Linked DNA regions of Homo sapiens. The protein of the gene in region 1 purifies or fractionates together with the protein of each later gene. This does not show direct contact. Each region holds a gene or a part of one and is shown in the gene's direction. Other genes may lie near its edges.

Region 1 (9,165 bases):
AGCAGATGGTTAGGAAAGGGTTAGTTCTCCAGGGGTTGCAGAGAGCACATTTCTCAGCTGGAGGGCCCTGAGACCACTCCTTTGGCGACTTCCCTGCAGGGAATTAGCAACTGAAATGAACTGCTGTCTACCCTGTGGGGTAAAGAGTTGGGAGGGTATTGTCATCTTGTGGACGATACCCGCCTTGTTGGCCTTTTCCTTCTCCTACCTGCTTTCATTTGTTGTAGTTGGAGAGTTTCTGTATACTTTTCGGAAGAGATTGGGCATATTGGGGAGTGGGTAGGAGTTATGGGAAAGGATGAGCAAATTCTTCCTGGCAGAACAAAGCACTGTTCAGCTGTTCCTCTCTTTCCCCTTCTCTAAAATAAGAGTTCAATACAGATAGCAGAGTCTAGGGTTTTCTTTGTAAACAATGAAAGGGCAGGGCCAGGAAAGAAAGTTTTTATTGTGCAGCATTGATAATGATCAGGTCATCCTAACTTATCTCCAGACCCTTCCCTGGATGTGGAGATAGATTTGCTGTAGAGGGCACTCTATGGTAATTTAGGATTTGACCTGTCTCTAGGAGAAAGGCATGGATGGTCTCAAAAAGCTTTGGTGGAGAAGCTCTGGACCAGAGGCAGGACAGCTAGCTTTGGTCCTGGCCACCAATCTTTGGGCTTTGGGCTAGTGGCTTCTGCTCTCTGGGCCTGTGTCCTTGCTGGTGAAGTGGAGGATGATAGGGCAGAAGGTCTTCCAGGGTTCCTGACAACTCCACTGTTCTTAGAGTCACAGTTTGTGATGGCATTTTCAGGTTCTTTCCTGTTTGCTAAATTGATAATAAATTCAAAGTATTGCACAATGGCATAGAAGAAGCATTCTAGGATGCAGGCTTCTGTTGGATTCACATCTACCTTTTCCTTGATTAGTGTGATTTGTGAGGTTTTACTGTAAGTATGTAAACAATTCAGAGCTAGAACGGTCCAGAGTGAGAGGCACAGACCCCAGAGTGAGTGGTTGTGGGAGATGAGGGTGGGATGATAGATTGCTGAGGAAAGGGAGTTTCTGTAATTTGTTCTCTTTCCCTGTGGATGTTTAACTTGCTGGTTTATTCATGGTTACACAGGTGAACGTTTACCTATCTAGAAGATGAGAGTTATAAAAGACCTCTGTGATTGCCATGTTCCTCCCCCTTCCCCGCCAAACTGAGGAATTTGAGGGGTTGGGAGGTTTGGCCATTTTTCCAAGGTTGCACAGCTAGCAAGATGTGGAGCTGGGGTGGGAACTCGGGGGGATAGATTGTAGATCTTGTTTCCAGATGTATCTGGGTTTTTTTGTTTTTTGGTGGTGGTGGTTGTTTTGAGACAGGGTCTCACCTGTCACCCAGGCTGGAGTGCAGTGGCACAATCATGGCTCACTGCAGCCTCGACCTCCTGGGCCCAGGCAGTCCTCCTACCTCAGCCTCCCGAGTAGCTGGGACCACAGGCACGCACTACCACACCCAGCTAATTTTTGTACTTTTTGTAGAGACAGAGTTTTGCGGTGTTGCCCAGGCTGGTCTCAAACTCCTGGACTCAAGCGATCCGCCTGCATTGGCCTTCCAGCATGCTGGGGTTATAGGCTTGAGCCACGGTGCCCGGCCTATATGTATCTGTTAAGCCCCCTCTTCCTCTGAGAGAAATGATTCTAAGATGGAATAGCGAAACATGAGGAGGAAATAGGAGCACAAGAAGAGAGAGATTGGAGAAACAGACGAGAAAGTAGGAGGCTGGGGACAGATTATGTGGGGAAGGGAAAAACACAGAAACCAAGCTTGGAGGAGAAAAGGATGGAGCTTGAAAGGGGGAGGCTCTATTGTCTCTGAAACAGCTGAGCTCTTCTGCAGCCCTTGGGGTGAAGTGAGGGGAGGTTTGGTAGCCTAGGATGGGGGGTGGGGGGGTGGACTGAGAGTTCAACCTCAGCCTGAGACTGTCTTGGAATCTCCTTGGGATTGCTCCTGTTGACCCTCAGATTGCAAAGTGTCATGGAGGCTGCTTAGTTTCAGGACCAACTGAGGCCTTTAGATCCACGGGAGCATGCAGAATGTGGACATGTGGGAAGTCAGGTGTGCGGGTGGTGATGCTGGCTGATGCTGAGGTGGGACTCAGTTCTGCTGAAGTCCCGGTTTTTTTGTAAATGCAAAACTCAGAACACTTTTCCATGGATTTCGTTTCAGTGCAAGCAGCATTTTCTCCTTGGATTTTCATCGGTGCTTTGAATGTTTTATGAGATAGTGTTTCGAATACTCCCTTTTCAGAGGAGATACTTGGAGATGAATGATTTACTGAATTGTAGCTCATTTGGGGGAGCTTCTGGCTTGTGACCTAAGCTAAGCCTCAGAATGTTTCAATGAGCAATTAAAGAGCTGTGAACAGTGGTTGACCAGAGCACTAACCATTCAAAGGCAAGGATAAAAGGTGATAATAGTTCAAGGTCTGGAGCTACAGCCAACAGCTGGCCATGAACAATGTAACTGACTTTGGCTAACTCTTCAAGCCCTAGAAAGTGTCTCTGTGGGTCCTTTGGTGGCTCCCCCTTTTTGTGTGCGGTTAGGCATGTGGACCCGTCCCTGAATCTTGCTGTCTCCCATTCTTCTTTTGCTACATCTCCCTCCACTATCCATTTCTTTTTCTTACCTCTTTCTCCTTGCCCTCCTCCCTCATTCTTTCTTTATTATCAACAATATATCTTTGTAGTTTCTTTTAATCTATTGCCATTAAAATTTCATGTTCTCTGTTCTTCATTTCAAATCAGTCGAGGGCCAGGCAAGGTAGCTCATGCCTGTTATCCGAGCACTTTGGGAGGCTGAAGCAGGTGGATCACCTGACGTCAGGAGTTCAAGACCAGCCTGGTCAACATGGTGAAACCCCGTCTCTACTAAAAATACAAAAATTTAGCCGGGTGTGGTGGCAGGCACCTGTAGTCCCAGCTACTCGGGAAGCTGAGGCAGGAGAATGGCATGAACCTGGGAGGCGGAGCTTGCAGTGAGCCAAGATCGCGCCACTGCACCCCAGCCTGGGCGACATAGCAAGACTCCGTCTCAAAAAAAAAAAAAAAAAAAAAAGACAAAAATTAGCTGGGTGTGGTGATGGGTGCCTGTAATCCCAGCTACTCAGGAGGCTGAGGCAGAAAGAATTGCTTGAGCCTGGGAGGTGGAGGTTGCAGTGAGCCGAGATTGTACCACTGCACTCCAGCCTGGGGGACAGAGTGAGACTCCATCCAAATAAATAAATAAATAAAATCAGTTGAATTCAGTCTTTTTTGAATGTGTATGTGTTTTACACACAAAACAAAAAAGAGGCAAATGAACCAAATCCAACTAAATTGCTTTTTACTTCTGTGTGGCCTTCCATTGATTTATCCCCCCACTTCTTCTGTGGTCAGCAGTGGCTTTTTATAGAAAAAAAAGTTCCCAGGTCTCTGTCATGCGGTTATTGTTTTCACAACAATAGAAAAAAGTTTCCACCCTTGTATTGTGGACCACAAGGGACACCCTCTCTCAAGGGATGTACCCTGTTTCTAGACTTCCTTCCATGGAAAAAGTGTCTTTAATGCATTCTGTAACAGAGGCCTGTACTGTAAGGGGTTAGGGGTGCTGATAGTGGAGGTGGGGCTCTTCTCAGTGACTGCGGTACTGCTTAGAATAGGGGCTGGCGGGCTATGGCCTAGAGAGTATATCTAGGAAGAATTAGCATCGTTGTTTTCTCTGTTTCCTCAGGCTGAGCTAACCTAACTGGCTGTAGCAGGACCCAGACCCTTTTGGAAAAGAATGAGATGCTTGTTAACTTTCTGATTAGTGTTGAGTGGGACCCAAGGTATGTCTTCTGCCCACCTTGGGAGGGTGGGCACCCACCGACAGTTGCTGGTGTAAAGTTCCCGGATTCTTTGATGGATGGATGCTGTACCGCTTTATGATTTTCTTCTGACTCTAATTAGTTACAGAGAGGATTGACTCTTGATGCTCAGTGGTCAGCAAGTACTTTAGTATCTAAAGTGGGCCTTGCAAACAAGAAGTCACCTTGTCACATTAGGTTTGTATTCTCTGTAATATATGTGTACTGGTTTTAGTATAAAAGTATTTAAGTTGCTTTACTGTTGAATACAATTGACGTTCTACGAAAATGTGTTTATTGTGGGCCCTCATTTGTACCAGCCCTCTGTAAATATGCATATCAGTCTCATACCCCAACTGGAGAAGCCGGGGATAGGGTAGGCATCAAACCTGCTGGTGCTGAGAACCACCCCTCCATGCTTTCCTGCTGGCTCTGCCAAACCACCAGATGCCCGGTCATTCCCTACTCCACGTCCCCAAAGGCCAGGCCCCCCTGCACCCCCCACCAGGACTGGTTCCCTCACCAGAAGGCCTTTTTCTGCGTTTCCTGGCTGATGCCTTCTCCCCTCAGACTCCCCTCACATCTTAAAGAGATGCCTTTCAGCTGGGCGCGGTAGCTGTAATCCCAGCACTTTGGGAGGCCGAGGCAGGTGGATCACCTGAGGTCAGGAGTTCGCGACCAGCCTGGCCAACATGGTGAAACCTCCTCTCTACTAAAAGTACAAAAAATTAGCCGGGCGTGGTGGCGCATGCCTGTAGTCCCAGCTACTCAGGAGGCTTAGGCAGGAGAGTCACTTGAACCCGGAAGGTAGAGGTTGCAGTGAGCCGAGATCACGCCATTGCACTCCAGCCTGGGTAACAAGAGCGAAACTCCATCTCAAAAAAAAAAAAAACAAACAAAAAAAGAGATGCCTTTCTTCTTGTGTTCAGCTTTCTACTTCTGTTGATATTGCTGGTTCCCTTGTCTGTTTCCTCCCCCATATTGTGAGTTCTGGGAATAGAGTGAGTCTGTGTTTCTTCTCTTTTTAAATTAAATTTTAATTTGTATAAAACTTTCGCGTGTGTGTGTGTGTGTGTGTGTGTGTACACAGAGAGTTTCTTTTTTGTTTGTTTTGAGACAGAGTCTCCCTCTGTTGCTTAGGCTGGAGTGCAGTGGCATGATCTCAGCTCACTGCAACCTCTACCTCCCGGGTTCAAGCGATTCTCCTGCCTCAGCCTCCCTAGTATCTGGGACTACAGGAGACCACCACCCCCCCAGCTAATTTTTTTATTATTAGTAGAGACAGGGTTTCACAGTGTTGGCCAGGCTGGTCTCGAACTCCTGACCTCAAGTGATCTGCCTGTCTTGGCCTCCCTAAGTGCTGGGATTACAGGCCTGAGCCACTGTGCACCCCCACCCCGCACAGAGTTTTGAAAGACAAATAGGCTGGGTGTGGTGGCTCACGCCTGTAATCCCAGCACTTTGGGAGGCTGAGGTGGGCGGATCACCTGAGGTCAGGAGTTTGAGACCAGCCTGGCCAACATGGCAAAATCCCATCTCTACTAAAAAAATACAAAAATTAGCCAGTCACGGTGGCGGGCGCCTGTAATCCCAGTTAATCTGGAGGCTGAGGCAGGAGAATCACTTGAACCAGGGAGGCGGAAGTTGCAGCGAGCTGAGATTGTGCCACTGCACTCCAGCCTGGGCAACAGAGCCAGACTCCCTCTCAAAAAAAAAAAAAAAAAAAAGTCAATACTACTAGAAAAATATAAAGGCTGCCTGGGCGCAGTGGCTCATTCCTGTAATCGTAGCAGTTTGGGAGGCTGAGGCCGGCGGATCACTTAAGGCCAGGAGTTCAAGATCAGCCTGGCCAACATAGTAAAACCTTATCTCTGCAAAAAATACAAAGAATTAGCCAGGCATGGCAGTTAGGATATAGACATCCTTGAGGGGCTGCTGTTACTCTGTTTACAACAGTTACTTCTAATGCACTGAGCTGTTTCTCCTGATATTACTATCATATTTATTGTTACCTGCTTACAATGCTGTTTTCTGATTGTCCATTTTAGATGTTATTTTTATTTTTCCTTATTTTTCTTTTTGTAGAGACAGGGTCTTGCTATGTTGAGACCCTGCTTGAGGCCAGGGTGGACTTTAACTCCTGGCCTGAAGCACTCCTCCTACCTGGGCCTCCTAAAGTTCTGGGATTACAGGTGTGAGTCACCATGCCCAGCTTAGAGGTTACTTTTAGATGTTATGTCTTGATGTCTTACTATGGATTAGATCCTCTCCTCTGCCCCCCAATACTTCCCTTTCTCCCTATCCTCTCATTATAGATATATCACAGTTTTTGATTACATTGATATTTGGTGCTTACATTATTTTGGCTGTGTAAATAGTGTTCATGACAGAGCCATATAGTATACTATAATATTTTCTTTCTTGTACATTTTTTGAGTTAATAATTATCTTACATTTTCTATTTACTTAGTTTCTATGTACTTATTGCTAATTCTCAAAGTATTTGACAGCATCTTAAGACATTTGTTTTATAACATGTGTTCCTATTTATTTATTTATTTATTGAGATAGGGCCTTGCTCTGTCCACCAGGCTAGAGTGCAGAGGTGCGATTGTAGCTCATTGCAGCCTTGACCTCCTGGGCTCAAGTGATCCTCCTGCCTCAGCCTCCTGAGTAGCTAGGACTACAGGCACCACCATGTCCAGCTAATTTTTAAAGTTTTTTGGTAGAGATGGGGTTTCACTACATTGCCTAGGCTGGTCTCTAACTCCTGCCCTCAAACAATCCTCCCTCCTCAACTTCTCAAAGTGCTAGGATTACAGGCATGAGCCACCGTGCCTGCGCTTGTTCCTTTTTATTTTATTACTGTTTTTTTTTTTTTACGCCCGCTTGGAGACTTCCCTCCTATAGGCCTCCATTCTGTCTCCTTTGTTCTTGCCCATTGACCTCTAGGCCTGTGGCATGACTCATCCTGGGAATTCCCTCACCTTATCCTGGGTGGGATCCTGTTTCCTTTGTTGATTTATTCTTCCACAAGTTTCTGAGAGAGGGTCTGTGGAAGTTGATCACTTTAAGCTTACAGGTCTGAAAATGTTCATATTCTACATTCATATTCGATTGGTGATTTGATTCATCTAGAATTTGAAGTCGAAAGCCATTTCCCTTAGAATTTTGAAGCCATCATTCCACTGTCATCTAGGTTCTAATATTGGTATCAAAATTCGGATACCATTCTGATTCTTGATCATTTATGGATAACCTGATTTCTCACTGAAAGTTTTTGGGATCTTCTCTCTTTTCCTGTATTTGAAATCTCCTTGCTTTAAAAATGATTGGCCTGGGTCTTTGGTGTGGGCCTTTTTTTTTTTTTTTTTTGAGATGGAGTCTCACTCTGTTGCCCAGGCTGGAGTGCAGTGGTGCAATCTCGGCTCACTGCAACCTCCGCCTCCCGGGTTCAAGCGATTCTCGTGCCTTAGCCTCCCAAGTATCTGGGATTACAGGCGCATGCCACCACGCCCAGCTAATTTTTGCATTGTTAGTAGAGATGGGGGTTTCACCACGTTGGCCAGGCTGGTCTCAAATTCCAGACCTCAGGTGATCCACCCGCCACGGGCTCCCAAAATGCTGGGATTACGGGTGTGAGCCACTGCGTCCAGCCGGTGTGTGCCTTTTTGATCTGAAGATTGACGTCTTTCAGTTTGGGGAAATTTTCTTAATTAGATATATTTTAATAATTTCATTTTCTCCATTTTCTGTGTTTTGTCTTTGGCATGCCTATTAGCTGAATGTTGGACTTCCTGGAGCAAGTTTATAATTTTAAAACATTTTATTTCCTTTTTTCATTTTATTATATTTTTGTCTTTCAGAGAGCTATCTTCAGCTTTATCTTCAACTCTTTTCCATTTTTAACTGTGCTTTCATGTGTTTACGTGGAACATATTTGCATGTTTTACTTTGTAAGAGCTCCCTAGTTCTCTGAATACTTGCTTTTCTTTTTTAGATGACATTCTATTCTTGTTTCATGGGTACAGTAAATTCCTTTATATTAAGGGTTTTGTTTGTTTGTTTTTGTTTTTTTTATGGTTTTCTGCTGTTCCCTGCTGTCCCTTGGAAGATGTTGTTTCTTCCAAGTCCCTTTTTCCATTTGTTTTGGTTACTGTATCTTCCATTGCAGCTATCCTTCCATGCATGCTGATCCTTGACTGTCTATGTATATTTTAAGAATGGACACCGAAATGCTGATTGGGCATCAGTGCCACAAGGAAGGGAGTCGTTAACTTCATTGTAGAGTGACCCAGCAGAGAGCCCCCTTTTTCTCTACTGGAGCAGCCTAGATATCAGCGCCGGTAGATCTTTTTCCTGGGGCTTTCCTGGATAGGGCTTTCTTGGAGAGGATTTTACCTGGGTGTGGGGTAGGGTGGGGTGGGGTGGTAAACAGCCTGGCCTTCCTGCATTCTGGGAGCCTCCATGGGGAAAGGGGCTAGGTATTAGTCTGTTTGATATGCAGACTTTCACTCAATCCCTGGGTCTTTTGAAAGTTGCCCCCACCTGCCATCCCTCTCTCCCATCTCTCTACCTCCCTCAGCTGTGTCCCTCCCTTGGCTGTATCTCTGGTGTAAGTTACCTGATCAGTGGATCTCCACCTTCTGCTAGCTGAGGCAGGGAAATCACCAGGCTGAGCAGACTGCAAGAGGGACCCTGGGTCTGACTGCTCTTTGTACCAACTTGCAGGCAGGCACCCTTCTTTTTAGCTTTACCCTGCTTTTCCCTTTAGAGTCCTTGGTGCCTCCACTTCCTGAACTGTCTTTGTGTTCTGTGCCATGAGTTGGGCACTTGTTTAGTGGCTCCTGCTCTGCTTGCACTTAGCAGAGCAGACAATGCGGAAACCTAAATCAGCTACTGCATGGTGGTCAGCTCTCCACTGCTGTTGACATATCTCATCTGCTGGGGTCTCTTTTTTCATTAAGAAATGCATCCGTCTACTGTCCTTTTAGTGGGAGTCCAGAAGAGAGCAGAGATAAACATGGGTGTTCAGCTCTCTGATTTGACCAAAAGTTTGTTTCATTTCTTCATTCACACACTTAAATTTGTGCCTGATATAGAGTATATTCTCAAGAAGTGTTTGTTAAATGATTGAAAGCCCGTTCCTAGGATGATATGCGTACATTTAGTCATCAGATTTCAAGACACCCAAACATACAGTGTTGCAAAAATAAATCCGTCGCTTATTCTGAGATAGACATAATAATAGGCAGCAGATCCTGCCTATTCTCCCCATGCAGTGGAGGATAAGACGCACTGGGAGGGAGACAGT
Region 2 (9,165 bases), on another chromosome or scaffold:
TAGTGCTATTATTATCCCCACACACTTAGGGAGGGGAAGTGACTGGCCCAAAGTCCCGCAGTCAACGAGCCAGGCCTCCCAACCACTCCTCTCTGACAAGAGGCTGGCACTTCTTGCCCTGCCTACCCAGCCTGGGTTGCAAGGAATTGGGGGTTTAGGGGCTTCAGGCCTCCTGGCTGCTGTCTTCCCGGGGCTACGCTCATTCTTACTGTCCAAGTGAGGCCAGGGGACTGGTCAGAGCCCTGGGGCCTGGGGAGGTTTCTCTTCCCTGCTCACCTGGCTGGGTGCCGTTTTATGGCTATGCTCTGTCTAGGGGGATAGCAGGTGTGACCCCTCAACACGAGGTCACAGCCCACACCTGTTTGGGCAGAGCAAGGCAGGGCATCGCTGTGTGGGCGTGCAGCATCTTTTGGTTCCTCTGGGTGAAGCAGGGTTTGGGCCCCATTCTCCACATACTTCCGGGCCATCTGAGGGTAGCGCCCACCTGGGGGGTGGGGAGGACAACCAGCCAGGAGCTCACGGTTCGGTGGAAGAGACAGGCCACAGCCATGTGGTGTGGTGGAGGGGCAGGGGGCAAGGGTGGAGGTGGGAAGAGGATCAAGGGGCGTTCCCGAGGCCTCTGTGGGCTTGGGGGCCTGCCTGCTATTGGGGCAGAACAGGGGAAGTAGGCAGTGCCCAGCTGGGTGCTGAGGCTCTGTGCAGAGGACAGGCAGGAGTTGGAGGAAGAGGATGTATTTGAACTTGGATGTGGTGAGTTTGAGGTACCTGGAGATCAGCCAGGCTGGGAGTTGAGCTCAGAGAAAGGCCCAGGGAAGCTTTATTAGCACCTGTAGTCTCCAGAGTTCGGGGATGCTCAGATCTTAGGGGTGCCACCAGAGGTCTCAGGAGGCACTGGTATGAGTGTCCTGGAAAAGCCAGAAGGCAGCTGGGTGGGATGAGTTGGTGAGGGGCACTAAGGGGGTATCCTGCAGGTTTAGGGGGCTGGGCCAGGGCCCATGTGAGAGTTATGACACTGGGGGAGTGGAAGGGGCTGAGTGTCTCAGGCCAAGGCTGGAGATGGGAGGGGGGAACCTCTGCTCTGCAACCCCAGAAAGGCAGGGTGGGGTGGGAGTAACCAGGGCCAGTGCAGCTGGAACCAGCTCAGCCTGTCCTCCACCTGCAGAGCCCATCCAGGAACTGTCCAGCACTGGGTGCTCCTGAAGGAGGCTGAGTCTGCCTCTTGAGCCCACAGGCCCTGGCTTAGCTTGTTGTCCTGGCCCCCACTCCCTGCTTATCTGACCCGCACTTCCTGCAGAGCCCAGCTGTGGATTCCCCCGCCCCCCCACCCAGCCGCTCAGAGTGCCCCATCCTCTAAAGGTGGTCATTTCCTTTCCTGAAACAGGGATTCAGTCTTCCCACTCTGCCCTTGGAAGCGGAGTTCCCCAGAAACAGGTCTCAGAAAGGGACCAGCCTGGAACTTGGCTCCATACCCCCCTTTTTTTTTTTTATTTTTTTGAGACAGAGTCTTGCTCTGTCGACCAGGCTGGAGTGCAGTGGCGTGCAACCTCAGCTCCCTGCAACCTCCGCTCCCTGCAACCTCCACCACCTCTGGGGTTCAAGCAATTCTCATGCCTCAGCCTTCTGAGTAGCTGGGGTTACAGGTGTGCACCACCACGCCTGGCTAATTTTTGTATTTTTAGTAGAGATGGGGTTTCACCGTGTTGGCCAGACTGGTCTCAAACTCCTGACCTCAAGTGATCCGCCCTCCTCGGCCTCCCAAAGTGCTGGGATTACAGGTGTGAGCCACTGCACCCGGCCTCCCCTCTTGTCCATTCTGCAGCCCTGGACCCTCCCACCTGGCGTCTGACACACAGTGGGAGCTCACCACTGCGTGGTGGCCAGAGCATGGTGGGTAGTCACCTCCCTCCCCAGAACCCCATTTCTTCATCTCTGCAATGGAGAAACAACTCTTTCTTACAGGGAAGATGTGAGGGGAGAAGGGTTTTAACAGGGGCATGGCCCACTGAAATGTGGGTTCTAGAACGCTGACCTTGGCCACATTGGAGGCTGGGTTTATGTGTTGGGGCAGTGGGTACCTCTGCAGCTGCCTGCCAAGAGCAGTTGGAGGAAAAGGGAATGAATAGAGCTGTGATTTTTAAACAAATTGCTTATTTAATCTTCATGACAGCCCCTTAAGTTTAGCACTGCTGTCACCTCCATCTTAACAGATGGGGAAACTGAGGCTCCAGAGTCCAAGGGGTCATTTCACTGGGTAGCAAGGCAGCTGGGATCCAAACCCAGACAGTCTGGCTCCAGATCTCAGACTTTTAACACTGTCCCAGCATGTCAAATGACCAGAGGTGGCCATAGGGAGATGCCCAGGCAGTGGGGCTCCCTTTGCTGGGGAACAACTGTCAAAGGCAACTGTGGGAACCCCTGGGACTGAGGGTCTGCAGACGCCGGTGCCAGCAGGGCTTGTCAAGCTTGGGATGTCTGCAAAAGCCGGGGGGCTCAGCAGAAGGGCTCCCACCCTCCCGTGGCGGTGGCAAAGGCTGAGCGTGGCATGAGAGGCCTGGGGTTGTCCTGGGTGCAGGGCTGTTGCAATAGCTGCCTCCAAGCGATGCTGCTCAGGCCGAGCCTTGGACTAGAAAGTTATCTGCACGGAAGAGCAGCTAGGGAAACTAATGCTCAGAACAGCCAAGACCACTAGTACCTAATCACCCATACAGAGGCATACAAGTCCCAAGGGCTCTGAATCCACACCTGTCCCCATCGCCAGCCAGAAGGCCCCCACCCATCCACTCTGCAGCAAAGTCACAGCAAGTTCAAGGGTTAAGTTAAGACCAGAAGCCATGCCTACTTTGCCTTCTGCCGGGGTGGTGGAGTGAGCTCAGATATTCTGGGAGGGGAGAGTTGGGGAATTCCAGCCACATCTGGCAGGAGGCCCTGGTTCAGAGCCTACCTTGTGGGGATGTGGTCTCTGCGGAGGTGAGCAGTAACACGGGCTTGAAAACCAACGCCCACGTATTCAGCAGTGAAGCAGAGACTGCGCTGTGTGCTGTGTTCCTGAATCTGCAGGGGAGAGAGAGACTCATACCTAGTCAGCGGGTGGGAGTCACTCCAGGCCGGAGGGATGACCTGCCCAAAGAGCATCTGTGTCCTGCCCAGGGAGGGGTGCAGAGAGGAGGCTGCAGGGGTGGAAGGGACTGCCCCACCGAGGCCAGGAGGGTGCTTGAGGAACAGCAGGATTGAAGGAGCCTATGTTGTCCAGAGTGAGGCTGAGTGGGCCAGGCCAGTGCTGCTAAGGTCCTGAGGACCCCTAAGGGCAGTGGACATGAGAAGGCATGGCTGGGCAGGTTTTCTGAGGATGGTGGAGGTGAGCAGAGTGAGGCCTTGTCTCTTGTGTCAGGCAAGGAGGTACCCCAAGAAGAGGCTGCATGAGACCAGCCTGGGCAACATAGTGAGACCCCCATCTCTACCAAAATATCAAAAAATTACCTGGGACCGGGTGCACTGGCTCACATCTATAATCCCAGCCCTTTGGGAAGCTGAGGTGGGCGGATCACCTGAGGTCGGAAGTTCGAGACCAGCCTGGCCAAGATGGTGAAACCCTGCCTCTCCTAAAAATACAAAAATTAGCCGGGCTTGGTAGGACGCACCTATAGTCCCAGCTACTCGGGAGGCTGAGGCAGGAGAATCGCTTGAACCCAGGAGGCGGAAGTTGCAGTGAGCCAAGATCACGCCATTGCACTCCAGCCTCGGCAACAGAGCAAGACTCCGTCTCAAAAAAAAAAAAAAAAAATTACCTGGCCATGGCGTCTTGTGCCTGTAGTCCCAGCCACTTGGGAGGCTGAGGCAGGAGAATTGCTTGGGCCCAGGAGTTCAAGGCTGCAGTGAGCTATGTTCAAAGTGCAGTGCACTGCACCCCAGCCTGGGCCACAGAGTGAGACTTTGTCTAAAAAGAAAAGGCCTCAGTTTCCCCATAGCGAATGGTTCATTGGGGGGTAGGTGGCACTGCCCACCCCAGGACATAGGAGAGAACCCTTAGTTCTGACCGTCTCCCCCTTCATGCACTTGGTTCTCTGACTGCTGCTCTGAGGACGGAGCTAAGTGAGGGTGCAGGAGGAAGGGGGGGTCTCTTGGCAGTGGGGCGCAGCCTTTTGAGGTGCTGCATAGCTAGTTTGACCTGTGGGACCACTGACCATCCCTCCTCTTCCCGGTGCTCCTGGCCTCCTGTGGCTGGGATGGTGCTGGGGAGGAGGTGGGGGGTGCCAGCTGGAGGTGGGCGGGGCTCCTGCCTCTCCCCGCCCCCAGGGCCACCGCCCACTGTGCCGCGCATCGATTGGTCGCGGGCCCATTAGGCGGGGCGGCGAGTCCGACTCATAAATATTTTAAGGAATGACCCGGCCCTGGGGTGCGGAATTGCTGCGCGGGCGGGGGCTGAAGACCGGCTTTTTTTTTTTTTTTTTTTTTTTGGTCCTCCAATTGTCAGCGCTATTTTTACCGCCGGAAAGCCGCCGCCCCCTCCCCCATGCCGGCTGGACCTACTGTCTAGCCGGGCTGGTGGCTGGGGTCTCTTGTCTGGGTTGCTGGTCGTGGGGTTAGGAGAGGCCGTGGCCTGGAAAGGCGATGAGCAGGGACTCCATTAGACTTCCCCTGCCCTCCTCGCTCCATCCCCCAGCACCAAAAACCACTCTGAAGCCCCCATCCCATCAGAGATGGGGAAAAAAAAAACACATTTTTTCAGGAGGAGAAGGCAGACAGCCCAGCTGAGCCTAGAAAAACCGGAGGTGGGGGGGTGTAATGGATGGGGGGAGGGTGGTCTACCCGCCCAGTGCTCCGAGGAGGGCCAGCACCACAGGGGGCCCTGGCTGGGCTTCCTTTGTCTCCAACGCCAGTCCTCAGAGAAGCAGCCTGTGAGGGGGAGAGGCAACCCCCTACCTGTCCCTAGTCCCAATGGAATGACAGCCCAGTCTTCAATGTCCAAGGCCATCACTTCTGCATCAAAATCAGGAGCCCCTAGAAGCCACACACAGCTCCAGCAATCCCATTTTACTGATAGGGAAGTGGAGGCACCAAGAGACACAGGGCCCGGCCCAGGATAGAGTCCAGATCTCCCAGAGCCCAGTCCAGCACTGCCTGGCACCAACTCAGCTGGTCTGTTTGGACACCTTGGGACCATAGGAGGAGAGCTGACCACCAAGAGAGTTAAAGACCATAGGGTCTTGGAGATCAGAGGGGGAGAGCAGTATAGGGAAGTTTTCCTGGGAGAAGAGAAGGTTTTGTTTCGGTTTGGTTTTTTGAGACAGAGTCTCGCTCTGTTGCCCAGGCTGGAGTGCAGTCGTGCAATCTCAGCTCACTGCAGCCTCAACTTTCTGGGTTAAAGTCCTCCTGCCTCAGTCCCCCAAGTACCTGGGACTACAGGCGTGTGCCACCACACCTGCCTAATTTTTGTATTTTTAGTAGAGACGGGGTTTCACCATGTTGCCCAGGCTGCTCTCGAACTCCTGAGCTCAAGTGATCTACCTGCCTCGGCCTCCCAAAGTGCTGGGATTACAGGCTTGAGCCACCACATCCAGCCAGAAGAGAGGGTTTTGCACGGTCTAAAGGGAGGGGAGATGTTGAATAGTCGGAAGAGCAAAGTCCCTAGAGAGGGCTTGAAACACCAACCTTGGCAGCACCAAGGTTGGAGGAGCTCCCGCCCTGCCCATGCCTGCACATGGGTTATAACATTGCAGACACCACCTCCTGTGCCATCTTGCCAGTGAGTGGTCAGAAAGTGAGAAGAGTGGGCTCAGAGGTTGGGAGTGTGGTCAGTGTCACTCACTCAGGGAGCACCCACGGGGTCACGTCTTGAGCCCAGGTCAGCCAAGCTCCCTACATGGGGTCTCCTCCCCAGTTCTGGTCCCAAAGATGGGTGGGGACAGTGCACTCCTGCCCCTGCCACAGCCAGGCCCCCTTCCCTGTGTCTTGCAGCCTCCCCTCTACAGAGAACCATGTCCGGGCCTCCCTCTCTCCATCTGTAGCCAGGTGGGGGCCTCCCTGCTGGCACTGCTGTTTGGAGACTTATACCTCTAGCTGCTCAACCTGCTTCCTCTGCATCCGGGGCTGGACCTACTGAGGGCTTCTGTGCCAGGCATCAGGCCCACAGGCTCCTGGGTGGCCTGCAGGGTTAGGTAGGAGAGGTCAGGGCAGTCCCAACCTCCCAGTGCCTCCCAGGCCAGTCCCTGCCTAGGACCTGGCCACACCTGCCATGCCCTTGGAAGATTCCTCTCTAAGTTCCACTCCCACTCCAGTGAGGGCCACCTGAGACCCACCTGCGAGAGCCTCCCCCAGGGCCCTGTCCCCCATCTCTGTGCCTTCTCCCTACCAAGGGTTCCTCCAGCCAGGAGGAAGAGCTGGGGGCGACAGGGATTGATGTCTAGGACTCGGCACTGGGGCTGACTTCCTGCCTGCCGCTGCCTGCCCCATGTGGGGGCATAATCATCTCACTCAGGGACCCCACACCTACCCTTCCCAGGCTGCCAAGTCACTGGCTCTGAGCCCCCTGGGGGTCCTAATGGTATAGAGAGAGAGGTGGCCACCGTCAGGAGCACTAGCCTACTGGATAAATGGATGGGCTTGGAGCTCAGGGACAGGGTTTCATGGGTTCAGCTGTGGCCCCACCCCCACCCCAGGAAATACCACCCCTGCAGGTCATGGCCTGGGCCTGGGCTCGTGACCTTCCCTGGAGGCCATGGTGGTGGTGGTGGTGGTGGCAGGTGTGTTCCCGTCTCCACCCCTCAGGGAAGAAGCAAGTTCCAGGAGCCTGGACTTTTGCCCTGCGCACTCTCTGTGTCAGATGGGGAGACAGCCATGAGGACAGACACTTGAAGTACCCTATAACTGGCACCATGCAAGAGAGACAGGCAGGAGGAGACTGTGGGAGCTCAGAGGAGACACTTGTGCTGGCCTGGATCAGGGAGAAAGGAGGGGTGTCGGGAGGCTTCCTGGAAGAAGTGGCTTCTGGATTAATTATTGAAGTGTGAGTAGGAGTTAGGGAAGAAAGGAGGAAGCACGGGGCAGGGAAAAGGTCAGGCATGAGCAAAGCTCGTGGGTTCCTCAGTCCCCATCCTTCCCCCACCTTCGTGAACTCTAACCACCACCACCACTACCCAACTGCCAATGTCCTGATAAGTCCTGCCCCCAACTCATTGTTCAGGCCCCCAGCACCCTCTTTATTTTCTTTGCACTCATGAAGCCCAACGCAATAACCACCTCTTGAAGGAAACCTTCCAAACTCCCGACTCCCCTCCCCCAGTACCAAGGCAGGAGTCTCCTAGGAGACCGCTGGTTTGGAAACCTGTCCTTGAAGCTAAGCAGGCTCAGCCGGGAGCCCTGTTCTGTCCCTGGGGCTGTCCCTTGGTTATTGACTGCAGATTGATGGCGAGGTTGCCCCAAGGAGAGAGGGAATTCCCACGGTGCCCTATGGCCCAGAGGCCTCGCAGATGATCTCACAGAAATGGGGCAGCTATTTTTACCTGGCATTTAATTACATGGTTTGGATCCCAGAGGAGAGATGAGATGGTGATCCCAGGAGCTGCGAGGGAGGGGCATTCCGGAAACTGTGGGGACCCTGGGAGGACAGGCGAGGGCATGATCCTCTAACTCATTTCCTTGGAAGGATGGTCGCTTGTCCCCCAACACTAAGCCGGCTCCTTAGACAGGGACTCCCCAGGCACTACATCACCGCACTTTATCACTATTGGTAATTTTCCCCCTGGCTTGGATGGGGGCTGTAAGCACACAGCAGGTTGGACCTGTGTCCCCAGAGGCAATGGCAAGGCCCCCAGGTGATGGGCTGGGCCCAAGCCATGCAGTTTAGCCATCCAGAGCTGTGAAGGATGGAGGGGCCTGGGAATAAGAGGATGAAGCTGGGGTGAGGAGACAGCTGGGATTCCTGGATTGGGGATTCAAAATCGGATTTGAATGGGAATTCTGGGGGAAGCCAGATTCCAGAACGTGGGAATGTAAGTAGAAGCGTGCAGGCCATTGTGATGGAAAGAAGCAAGGTCTTCAATGTCCGTACAAAAACTTGGTCCCTTTAGCCAGGCATGGTAGCTCTTGCCTGTAGTCTGAGCTACTCGGAAGGCTGAGGCGGGAGGATCGCTTGAGCCCAGGAGTTGGAGGCTGCAGTAAACTGTGATCTCGCCACTGCACTCCACCCTGGGAGACACTGCAAGACTCTGTCTCAAAAAAAAACAAAAAACAAAAAAACGCTTGGTTCTTATCCACAGCTTTGCTTTCCAAGGCTTCAGATACCCGTGGTCAACAGAGGTCTGAAAATATTAAATAGAAAATCCCAGAAGTAAACATACAAATACAAATGTAAATTGCAGGCCAGTCTGAGTAGCAGGATGAAGTCTCAAACCATCCCGCTGTTCTGCCTGGGATGTGAATTATCCCTTTGTCTGGCATATCCGCACTCTGGATACGACCCGCTCGCCACTTAGGAGTTGTCTGGGTTATTAGATCCAAAAAAAATGTAGCGGGCCAGGTGCAAGTGGCTCGTGCCTGTAATTTCAGCACTTTGGGAGGCCAAGGCCAGAGGATTGCTTGAACCCAGGAGTTCAAGACCAGCCTCATCAATAGAGTGAGATCCCATCTCTACACACACACACACACACACACACACACACACACACGCAGTATACAGAGGTTCAGTATTAGCCAGTTTCAAGCATCTGCTGGGGTTCTTGGGACATATACCCCTTGAACGAGAGGGAACTACCATATTTGATCCACACTAGGAGGAGACCCCTCAAGTCCTGGAGTCACTGCAGACCTGGGCGAGAACCCTGGACCTGTCTTGTCACTAACAAGCTGTTTGTCCTTAGGCCCCAAGTGAGGGCTTAGGCGGTGACAGCTGTGACATGCCTGGTGTGCCAAACTCATTCATTTGTTCATTCAGTCAGTGTTTCCCAAGCGCCTGCTGTATGCCCAGCACTGAGGACACAGCCGCTTCTAGGACTGGCAAAATCCCTGCCTTGTGAAACTGGCATTCTCGGGGGAAGGGGGTGGAGGGGACACACAACCAAGCAACTAAATATATGATATGACAGCCGGCAATAAGGATAATGGTGAAAATAGGCAGAGTGCATGAACGCATCAGAGGGAGTATTGTCATCAGAGGGATTTGTCATTCTC

The links.
Region 2: the proteins of SORBS1 (region 1) and SH2B2 purify together in Homo sapiens (affinity purification with western blotting; 2 studies listed by BioGRID). This does not show direct contact.

What each region holds. Positions count from the first base shown.
Region 1 is NC_000010.11:95,550,463-95,559,627, reverse strand, and holds part of SORBS1 (sorbin and SH3 domain-containing protein 1), read left to right. Parts: intron 1-9,165. UniProt on the Homo sapiens protein: Plays a role in tyrosine phosphorylation of CBL by linking CBL to the insulin receptor. Required for insulin-stimulated glucose transport. Involved in formation of actin stress fibers and focal adhesions.
Region 2 is NC_000007.14:102,288,768-102,297,932, forward strand, and holds part of SH2B2 (SH2B adapter protein 2), read left to right. Parts: intron 1-698; exon of another isoform or gene 699-750; intron 751-4,335; exon of another isoform or gene 4,336-4,420; intron 4,421-9,165. UniProt on the Homo sapiens protein: Adapter protein for several members of the tyrosine kinase receptor family. Involved in multiple signaling pathways. May be involved in coupling from immunoreceptor to Ras signaling. Acts as a negative regulator of cytokine signaling in collaboration with CBL.